Regions from separate parts of the Homo sapiens genome. Here region 2 is linked to region 1. The links come from fine-mapping of genetic effects on gene expression. Tissue or cell type: whole blood. Region 1 holds a variant in brackets; the other region holds the start of a gene. All regions are shown on one strand. Distances are from middle to middle.

Region 1 (5,145 bases):
GGCCTTCTTGCAGGGGCTGCTGGGCACCGAACCAGCTGAGGCCTTCCACCCACACTTGCCTATCCTCCTGCCACCTGTGATGGCCTGTGTGGCTGACTCTTTCTACAAGATTGCAGCCGAGGCCCTGGTGGTGCTGCAGGAGCTGGTGCGGGCCCTGTGGCCGCTGCACAGGCCTCGGATGCTGGATCCTGAGCCATATGTTGGAGAGATGTCTGCTGTCACCCTGGCGCGACTTCGTGCCACTGACCTGGACCAGGAGGTGAAGGAGCGGGCCATTTCCTGCATGGGCCACCTTGTAGGCCACCTGGGTGACCGGCTTGGGGATGACCTGGAGCCCACGTTACTGCTCCTCCTGGACCGCCTGCGGAATGAGATCACCCGGCTGCCCGCCATCAAGGCGCTTACGCTGGTGGCCGTATCCCCACTACAGCTTGACCTACAGCCCATCCTGGCCGAGGCACTGCACATTCTGGCCTCATTCCTGCGGAAGAACCAGCGGGCTTTGCGACTGGCCACACTGGCAGCCCTGGACGCCCTGGCCCAGAGCCAGGGCCTCAGCCTCCCACCGTCTGCCGTGCAGGCCGTGCTGGCTGAGCTGCCTGCCCTGGTCAACGAGAGCGACATGCATGTGGCCCAGCTGGCTGTGGACTTCCTTGCCACAGTGACCCAGGCCCAGCCAGCCTCTTTGGTGGAGGTCAGTGGCCCTGTGCTCTCAGAGCTGCTGCGGCTGCTGCGTTCGCCCCTGTTGCCAGCCGGGGTTCTGGCAGCTGCTGAAGGCTTCCTGCAGGCCCTGGTAGGGACCCGTCCCCCGTGTGTGGACTATGCCAAACTCATCAGCCTGCTCACTGCGCCTGTTTATGAGCAGGCTGTGGATGGTGGGCCTGGCCTGCACAAGCAGGTGTTCCACTCATTGGCCCGGTGTGTGGCAGCCCTCTCAGCTGCCTGTCCCCAAGAGGCGGCAAGCACAGCCAGTCGCCTGGTCTGCGATGCCAGGTCGCCCCACTCCAGCACGGGGGTCAAGGTCCTGGCATTCTTGTCGCTGGCTGAGGTGGGTCAGGTGGCTGGGCCAGGCCACCAGCGGGAGCTGAAGGCGGTGCTCCTGGAAGCTTTGGGGTCACCCAGTGAGGATGTGAGGGCTGCAGCCTCGTATGCACTGGGCCGTGTGGGTGCTGGCAGCCTGCCCGACTTCCTGCCCTTCCTGCTGGAGCAGATCGAGGCTGAGCCCCGACGACAGTACCTGCTGCTGCACTCACTCAGGGAGGCCCTGGGGGCCGCCCAGCCTGACAGCCTGAAGCCCTACGCCGAGGACATCTGGGCCTTGCTGTTCCAGCGCTGCGAGGGTGCTGAGGAGGGCACCCGGGGGGTGGTGGCCGAGTGCATTGGGAAGCTGGTCCTTGTGAACCCTTCGTTCCTTCTGCCCCGCTTGCGGAAGCAGCTTGCTGCAGGTAGGCACACAGGTGTGGGCAAGGCAGCCCACCTCGGAGGTGGGCAGTTTGCCACTGAGCATCCAGGCAGCTGGGGCAGAGTGAGCTATTTCAAGTCACTGGATACAAGAATCACGGTATCTATACGACAGAGGCAAGGAAGCTACAGAGGAACACACAGTGATACCTGAGACTTAAAGCCTTCCTCCTATGGGACTGTGGGATAGAAGGGACAGAGTCCTTGATTGGTCCCTACAACAAATACATTTAAAAATCTCATGATGTTGGCTAGGCATGGTGGCACATGTCTGTAATCCCAGCACTTTGGGGAGGCTGAGGTGGGTGGATCACTTGAGCCTAGGAGTTTGAGACCAGCCTGGGCAACATGGTGAGACCCTGCCTCTACCAAAAAAAAAAACAAAACAAAAAACCTCATGATGCCAACTTCATAATCCTTGATGTGGACAGTAGCTTAGTGCTCCACACAGAGGTCAACAAAAACAGTTTTCCCAGTAGCCGTAGACTGCAGCCTGCAGAGGGTCAGCTCTTTCGGCTAGCCTGAGCCAAGAGCAGACGTCAGTATAGACGGGGACAGGCTGACATGCCCCCGAGGCTTGGAGAGGGCTGGGCAAGAACCAGGAGGGGCAGGCGTTTTGGCTTGTCGTGTTTTGGCACACCAGGTGTCTTAGCTTCAGGAGGTGGAAAGCAGACAGGTAGGGTCATCAGGCTCCTAGGAAAATGAGAGTTCCCAGAATGAAAGGCCAGTGGGCTTCGAGCTGGCCAGCTGGCCCCTTACAGAACCAGTGGATGCTCTGCTTGACAGAATGCAGGTACAGTGTTTGGTAACCTATGTGGTACCTACAGTAATTAATACTGAGTAAATCAAGAGCTGCTGTTGTTACTAGGTAGGTTAGTGATTTCAGTTAAGGCCTTCTTGGGTTGCTGGGTTCGTAAGAAGCAGTTGTCTGGCCTCAGGACTGGATGGAAGAACATTGTTGAGGACACTGTCTATTACATCACACAACCTTGAGAGACGAGAGTGTTAAGATGCAGAGGAGCCCTGCTTTGCCTAAACACCTATTTGTTTCTATCTCACGTGCACTGTTGAACCAGCCACCCGGTCACATTTCCTTTTTAGCACCAACTGCTGGGAAGCTTAGAGCCAGATGAGTGGTCTGCTTCTAGTAGGTTCCTGGGACTTCCTTATTGATGCTCTCTGTACATCTTCCTGCTAGTCTCCTTCTCACCTCCCTGCCTTCAGTCGTCCTTGGCCTTGTTCTTGTTTTCAGTTCACTTAATCTTACTCTCTTGTGCCTGTCTTCATCAGCCACCCTAAATCTTCCTGGGAGCCAGTCAGGCTGGCAAGGGAAAGAGGTAAAAGCTGAAAGTCTGAATTCAGTAACTCTTCCATTCATTCATGCCTTAGCACCAAA[T/C]GGTAAACTTTTCCTCGAGGCTGAACATAAAGCCTGTGGGGTGGAAACACCTTAGCCCATTCACTGCATTGTGCTGGGGTTGGGCAGGGAGCAAAGGGGGCGAGCCACTGAGGAGAGATTCAGACGCAGGTGGAGCGTCCACCCATTCGTTTCCTTCATTAAGGGAATGTACTTCCCCTCTTTACTGGGCTTCTCTACTCAGAAAGCAAGCGGCAAAGCACAAGTAAGCAAGCTCTCTGTGACCGAGCCTGGAGGTGATCCGAGTTCTGTTAGGCCTCCCTGACCACCAGCCAGAACGCAGCCCCAGGAAGAGGGGCCCAGCCAGGAATTCTGGATCTGCTGTGTGGCCCTAGACATGAACTTAAACCCTCTGAGTCTCTCTTTCCTCATATGTCAAAGAGATGATTTTTATTGGTGATTTTATTGGTTCTTTTAATACTACTTTATTATTAATAGGATCATTGTTAGGACTCATTGAGATAACATGTCTGAAAAATCCCAAGGCCTGAGGGAAGGTCTTTGTTGGAGCAGTTCCTGTCTTGGTTATTGGTTCCCTGTTTGCAGCCTGTGGTGTTACCTGAGCACTGGCAGTCCTACTGTTTCAGCTGCAGCAGGAAGAATTGAGGGGAGATTCAAGGCTGCCAAGGGAAATGGTAGAATCCACTTTCCCAGAGATGGGGAGGGGGTACAGTTCTGTTTTCCAGGGAAGCAGGGGGAGGAGCCTAAGCACCTTCTGATCTGTGAGCCTCCAGGATTGGCCCCTGCCCCTCACTAACTCACCTCTTCTTGTCCTGCAGGTCGGCCACACACCCGGAGCACCGTCATCACAGCGGTCAAGTTCCTTATCTCGGACCAGCCCCATCCCATTGACCCCCTCCTGAAGAGCTTCATCGGTGAGCACCTACCTCTTGCCCCTCCACCTTGTTCAGTGCCCCCACCCAGTCCTTGAGCTTGGGCTGATGTTTACTACCCAATAGCCAAGGGCAATGGGAGACCCGGGAGGTGTGCCCATGATGGGCAGCAGGGCCTGGCCCTCCAGTTAAAAGGCCTGGGTTCACATCCCTGCCTTCCTACTGCCACTCAATCATGGGTGGGTGTGGCATGCCCATCACACCTCTAAGCCTCGCTTTCCTCATCTGTCAAATGGGCGTGAGAAACTCTTATTATCTGCATTTTCTAGAGTTGTCCTGGAAGCCCATGGGCAACTGAGGGAGAAGATGCTTCATCAACATATAGACTCTTGGGAATGGAAAACCACCAGCCTCTCACATGCCTTAGCTTTTGCGGGCCCCAAAGTGGGGCAGGGAAGAGTGCTCCCCCCGGCCCCGCCTGTCCACTAGATCGCCCTCTGTCTGAGGGGCCTTCTGGCCTGAGGAGCCCAAGCAGCCTTCACTGGGAGGAGAGGAACTGAGACCTCCCTCTGGGGCTCGGCAGGACCACTGGGTTTTTCCTAGGAAGGCAGAGCCCTCGCCCCTTCAGAGCTTGGAGCCTGCAGCCCCTCACTGGGCCACACTGGAGTCTCAGCCCACATCTAGGCAGGGCAGCCCAGTAGAGAGAGGTTTTGGAGCTCACCTGCCTCAGGTTCAAATCCTGGCCCTGCTATTCCCTGGGTGTGTGAGTGTGGACAAGTCTTCTCATCCTCAGCTATAAAATGGGGGTGCTGGGCCAGGTGCGGTGGCTCTCGCCTGTAATCCCAGCACTTTGGGAGGCCAAGGCAGGTGGATCACCTGAGGTCAGGAGTTCAAGACCAGCCTGGCCAACACGGTGAAACCCTGTCTCTACTAAAAATACAAAAATGAGCCGGGTATGATGGCAGGCACCTGTAATCCCAGCTACTCTGGAGGCTGAGGCAGGAGAATCACTTGATCCCGGGAGGTGAAGGTTGCAGTGAGCGGAGATTGCACCACTGCACTCTAGCCTGGGCGACAGAGCAAGACTCCGTCTCAAAAAAAAAAAAAAAAATTAGTTGGGCATGGTGGTGGGCACCTGTAATCTCAGCTGTTTGAGAGACTGAGGCAAAAGAATTGCTTGAACCCGGGAGGCAGAGGTTGCAGTGAGCCAAGATCGTACCATTGCACTCTAATCTGGGCAACAAGAGCAAAACTCTGTCTCATAAATAAAAAAAAAGGAACGGTTGTGCTGATACTCATCTGCCAGGGGCCTGTTATGTGGGACCAAGGGGCCAGCAGACGTGACCGTGTTCTGCACTGGAGAACACGTGCAGAAGCTCTAGCAAGGTCATCGGCAGCAACTTTGTCCCTTGCCCTAATGCAGTGGGCACATGCCCC
Region 2 (5,145 bases), 22 kb after region 1:
TTGTAAGCCAAAAATAAAATTCAAAGGCCCCCAGCAACCATCTGAATGCACTCCCTCCTTGAATAGGGCACTCTTGGTTTCCACAACCTCTTACTGTAGCCAAGACATTCCTTTCTAGTGATAACCAATTCTCGACGAGAAACAGAAAATCTATCCAAAACCTCGAAGTGCCGCCTTTCTGGACCAAACCAATGTATGCCTTATGTGTATTTGATTGATGTCTCATGTCTCCCTAAAATATGTAAAACCAAGCTGCTCCCCGCCCACCTTGGACACATATTCTTAGGGTCTCCCAAGGGCTGTGTCACGGGCCATGGTCAACTCATATTTGGCTCAGAATAAATCTCTTCGAATATTTCAGAGTTCAACTCTTTTGCTTGACACCTTCATAAAGAAAGCAACATTTTGGAAACAACAGCCAAAGGATATTGTAGTAGTGGAAAGTGGCTATTATTGCAGTGTTCACAAAGCAGTCTTTTCCTGGTCTTGGGTCTCTACACTTAGAAGACCAAGTCACCTCCTTCAGCAAAGGAAACACCTTGAATTCCCCAACAAGCATTCTCTAAAATCCTGCAAGGAACAACTTCTGATTCCCTCAGAGAATGTACAACACCCCCCGCCAAAATGCATCCCAAGAGTTTGTAGAGTTCCTGCCAGAAGTGCTCACACAGATGCAAACTTCTGATCACTGAAAACTAGAGGTGGGACCCAACTCACTTGTTGCACATCAGCAGCACTTCCAGCTCCTTGACGTTGTGGACCAGGAACTTCCGGAAGCCACTGGGCAGCATGTGCTTTGTTTTTTTGTTGCTTCCATAACCAATGTTGGGCATCAAGATCTGGCCCTTGAATCTTCTACGAACCCTGTTGTCAATGCCTCTGGGTTTCCGCCAGTTACGCTGAAGGAAATAATACACAGGTGGGTTAGCGTCTGTGCAGAGTGCGAACTCTTCCTTTTGGGGAGGGAAAAAAAGGACCAAATGAAAAGGAAGTATGCCACACAGTAGTTGCCTTTGGTAACAGGACTTCACTATTTCCTTACTTTTTTGGTGGGAAAAACCAGGAGCTCGTGGCTTTAGCCACTAGGGATGAAGGCACCCCCACCATTGCCACTCCCAAGCAATGGAGGAGGCACCAATGGGATGCGAGGGGACTGTGTAGATACTGAGATGGCAAGCACAGCTGCAGACACTGCTCTCAGCACCTGAGTTTTCTTGTCTATAAAATAGGGATCCTGCTGTCACAAGGCAACCCAAAATACAGGACACAAATGCAAAGCCCTCTGAACACATCAAAACGGCCAAATGTCCCTTTTCATTAAAGTTTCGCTTCACACATCAAGAGACATAAGTACCAGCACTAGGGCACACTGGGGGAGACCTGTATTTCTACAGAAAGCTCTTCCACAAGCCAGTTCATCGGTCAAAGATAATCCTGACTAGGTGATGTCAGAAACTGTTGGAAACTCTTTTCTTCACCCCACACCCATTTCCATCCCAGGACCACATACCTTAATTTTGACATATCGGTCTGACTGGTGCCGGATGAACTTCTTGGTTCTCTTTTTGACGATCTTGGGCTTCACAAGGGGTCTGAGGGCGGCCATGATGCCTTTTGGGGAAGAAGCGGCCCCAGGTGAGGAAGAATCCTGGAAGGAGGCTTTCCTGCCCAGGGACTGAACACTGTCGCAGAGTGTCTTCCAATCGCCAGCTACGGAGCAAGCTGGGAATGGAATGGGTGCCTCTGCCAGGCTTGCTTTCCCTCCCTTTCCGAAGCTGGCAGAATACTAGGCACTCTCCAGATGCGATCCCAGGAGGTCAAGGGTCACCTCACCCACTCAGAGCCCAAAGAATGCCAACAGCTGAGCAAATCAAAACTGACCCCAAGACACTCTCAATTTGCAAGGGGCAGCAAATCCCACCCCACCAGTGTCCGAACCCCCAGATGGTCCTTCCGGTAGTACTGGCCTTGACCATCTACTTGAACCTGAGTCTTTTCCTCACCTGTAAAATGAAGATGACACTGCGCGCTGAATGCCTGCAGTGCCTGTCACAGGGTAAATGTTCAATAAAACCTTCTAATTCCCTAGGGAGCTGCTGCGCTACCACACCCTCAACACACACAAAACCACCATATACCTCTGAAGATGCCTCAAACCTGGAGATCTTCCAGTATCAACTCACACCTTCCTCAGTGTGGTCTTCCGAGCCATTGATTTCCTACAGCAGCACCCCTTCTGCTCTCTTCGCAGCCATCAACTGGCCCAGAGTGGGTACTCAATGAACCACGTATTCAAAACGACTCTGCCTTCTGGCCCATGATATCCTCGAAGGCAAGGTGGGGGCAGTTGCATCTTCATATTCCCAGAGATACTACCAGAATTTCTGCCTGCAGCTGGACCAGCCGACCTACAGCTCGTCTTTCCTTGGCGGTCCCGCAGCAGCAGCCCTCGGGCCAGAGACTGCAGCGGAAGAAGCCGGCCATGGCATGAACGAATACACGTGGGCCGACATTGGTGAGCGCTGGGATCCACAGATCCCAGCTGAAAGCTGTCAAGCTGGGCCACCCCTGGTCGTCCCACGGCCCCCAGGAGACCCCGAAGTCTGGCCTCAACTAGCACCCTCCACCGCCAAGGAACAAACAAGCAGCCCGCAGCTCTGAATACAGGCGGAGGGCAGGAGGCTCTGGGACGCAAAGCCCTATCAACTCGGCGGCTTCGTTCTGTTCCTGTACACGCTCCAGTAAGCTGACAATAACAATACCCACAGACACTACCGCGCTGAAGGGGAGGCCTCCGCACCACTGGGCGACGGGGCCAGATGAATCCCGCAGGAATGCGGATTGCCACGGATTAACACTTACCGAGAAGGAGATGGCTGCCACCTCCGTAGGCAGCGCCGAGGAAGAGAGAAGGGACGGTGGCGCGCAAGGGCTGATGGGTCGTAACCCCTGGGTCCTAGCAGGGAAAAAGGCAAGCACTTCCGGCTCCGGCTCTTTTAAATAAAATAAAGACACGTCAAAAAATAATGCCGCAAAAATTCTGAGTATACATGTTTTAATAGACAATAATAACTAGGAATAGGACTGAGAAATGTATTCTACCTATCCTTGGGACTACGTAGAAATTTGGAATTCTTTCTGAGCTAATAAGACCTGGTGGAGGGAGGAATTTACTTCCGCCAGAAGTCGAAGCCAATCCGCTTTTGGGCTATTTCCGCCCGCGTTTCTTCTACTCCGAAGTGCGCCTCTTAGTGGTCAGAAGAGAACAAGACAGAGACTTCCTAATAATTTCATCACCGAATTTAGACAGTAAATAGTAACGAAAACAGCTAACATGCGATGGAGTTCACTATGCCTACCACAATTCTATAACGTACCCCTATTATTGTCTCCATTTTGCATATGTGGAAGATGAAATTTGGAGACTTGACTCCAAACTCCACGCTTCTAACCACTGGGCGAAACTGCCTAGTTTTTCTTTGTTCATTTTTTAGAAATGGGGTCTCACTCTGTTGCCCAGGCTGGTCTTGAACTCCTGGGCTCAAACGATTCTCTCGCCTCAGCCTCCTGAGTAGCTGGGATTACGGGCACGAGCTACTGCCTAGATGTTTTTTGTTTTGTTTTGTTTTTTGGTTTTTGGTTTTTTTTAGACAGGGCCTCCCTCTGTCACCTAGGCTGGAATGCAAAGGTGCCATCTCACGGCTCACGGCAGCCCCTGCCTCCCAGACTGCCTAGTTTTTAAAGATGCTCTTGATTTGTTTTGCTTAGCTTTTGTATTTAAGATTATTGTGCAAATTGGCTGAGCACTATGGTTCACACCTATAATTCCAATACTTTGGGAGTCTGAGGTGGGAGATTTGCTTGAGCCCAGGAGTTCAAGACCGGCCTAGGCAACATAGTAAGACCCTGTCTCTACAAAAAATAAAATAATTAGCTGGGGCTGGTGGCGCATGCCTGTAGTCCCAGTTACTCGAGAGGCTGAGCTGGGATGATCACGTGAGCCCAGCAGTTCTAGACTGCAGTTAGCTGTGATAATGCCACTGCACTCCAGCCTGAGTGACAGAGCAAGACTCTGTCTCAACAACAACAAACCTATAAAGACAAATAACCCAATTGAAAAATGGGTAAAGAATCCAAATAGACATTTCTCTGTGGCCAATGAACACATGAAATGATCCACATCATTAGCCATCAGGGAAATACAAACTGGAACTGCAGTGAGATACCATTTCACACTCACTAGGACAGAGAAATGGGAATGTCCGTACAGTGCTAGTGCAAATATGAAATGGTGCAGTCACTTTGGAAAAGAATAGCATTTCCTCAAAATGTTAAACATAAAGTTACTGTAAGACCCAGCGACTGGGCGCGGTGGCTCATGCCTGTAATCCCAGCACTTTGGGAAGCTGAGGTGGGCAGATCACCTGTGGTCAGGAGTTCGAGTCCATCCTGGCCAACATGGTGAAACCCCATCTCTACTAAAGTTACAAAAAATTAGCTGGGTGTGGTGGCACATGCCTGTAGTTCCAGCTACTAGGGAGGCTGAGGCACGAGAATCACTTGAACTCAGGAGGTGGAGGTTGCAGTAAGTGGAGATCGCGCCATTGCACTCCAGCCTGGGCAACAAGAGCGAAACTTTGTCTCAAAATAATAATAATACATGAATTGGTGTCCCACAAAATGAAGATACTTTTTTTCTGATAAGAATATACACATAAGATTTATGTCAACTCAGTAATCATTCAGGAGGTTTTACTTCCTGAGATTTTTTTTAATGAAAACATTTTCTCAAGTTAGATTCCTAGGGTGTCTAAGTCAATGCCAAGAAAAGTTTGGAAAGACTTTGAGAGAAGGCCAGCCCAGCATCTTTCTTGTAAGCGGAGGTAGATTTGGTTTCACAGAGGCCTACTGGAAGTGATAAAAGGGAAGAATTCTTTAGGAATCACTTTAGTGTTTACTGTACATGCTAGGGACATAAATTTTTTTTAAAAAAAGGAATCACTGTGGTGTAAAATACTATTAAAATTTCTCTAAAAGTCTAGAGCTGGGCTGGATATGGTGGCTCACACCTGTAATCCCAGCACTCTGGGAGGCCAAGGCAGGAGGATTGCTTGAGGCCAGGCATTCAAGAGCAGCCTGGAAAAC

The links. PIP is the estimated chance that this variant, and not a neighbour inherited with it, causes the effect.
Region 2: it holds the start of RPL32, and the variant in region 1 is fine-mapped to the expression of RPL32 in whole blood (TOPMed, PIP above 0.99).

The regions. Positions count from the first base shown.
Region 1 is chr3:12,816,432-12,821,576 of GRCh38, forward strand. CAND2 (cullin associated and neddylation dissociated 2 (putative)) reads left to right here. Exons shown (of 15, transcript NM_001162499.2): 10 at 1-1,445; 11 at 3,655-3,750. Among named protein-coding and RNA genes, the nearest start is that of SNORA7A, 21 kb to the right of the region's middle. The variant T/C (reference allele first, on the strand shown) is at 2,858.
Region 2 is chr3:12,838,632-12,843,776 of GRCh38, forward strand. RPL32 (ribosomal protein L32) reads right to left here and starts at 2,934. Exons shown (of 4, transcript NM_000994.4): 1 at 2,863-2,934; 2 at 1,511-1,611; 3 at 718-899. The coding sequence starts at 1,606. It overlaps SNORA7A (small nucleolar RNA, H/ACA box 7A), which reads right to left and starts at 1,819; the gene lies at 1,681-1,819. RefSeq lists enhancers at 1,294-2,232, 2,233-3,169, 3,263-3,512.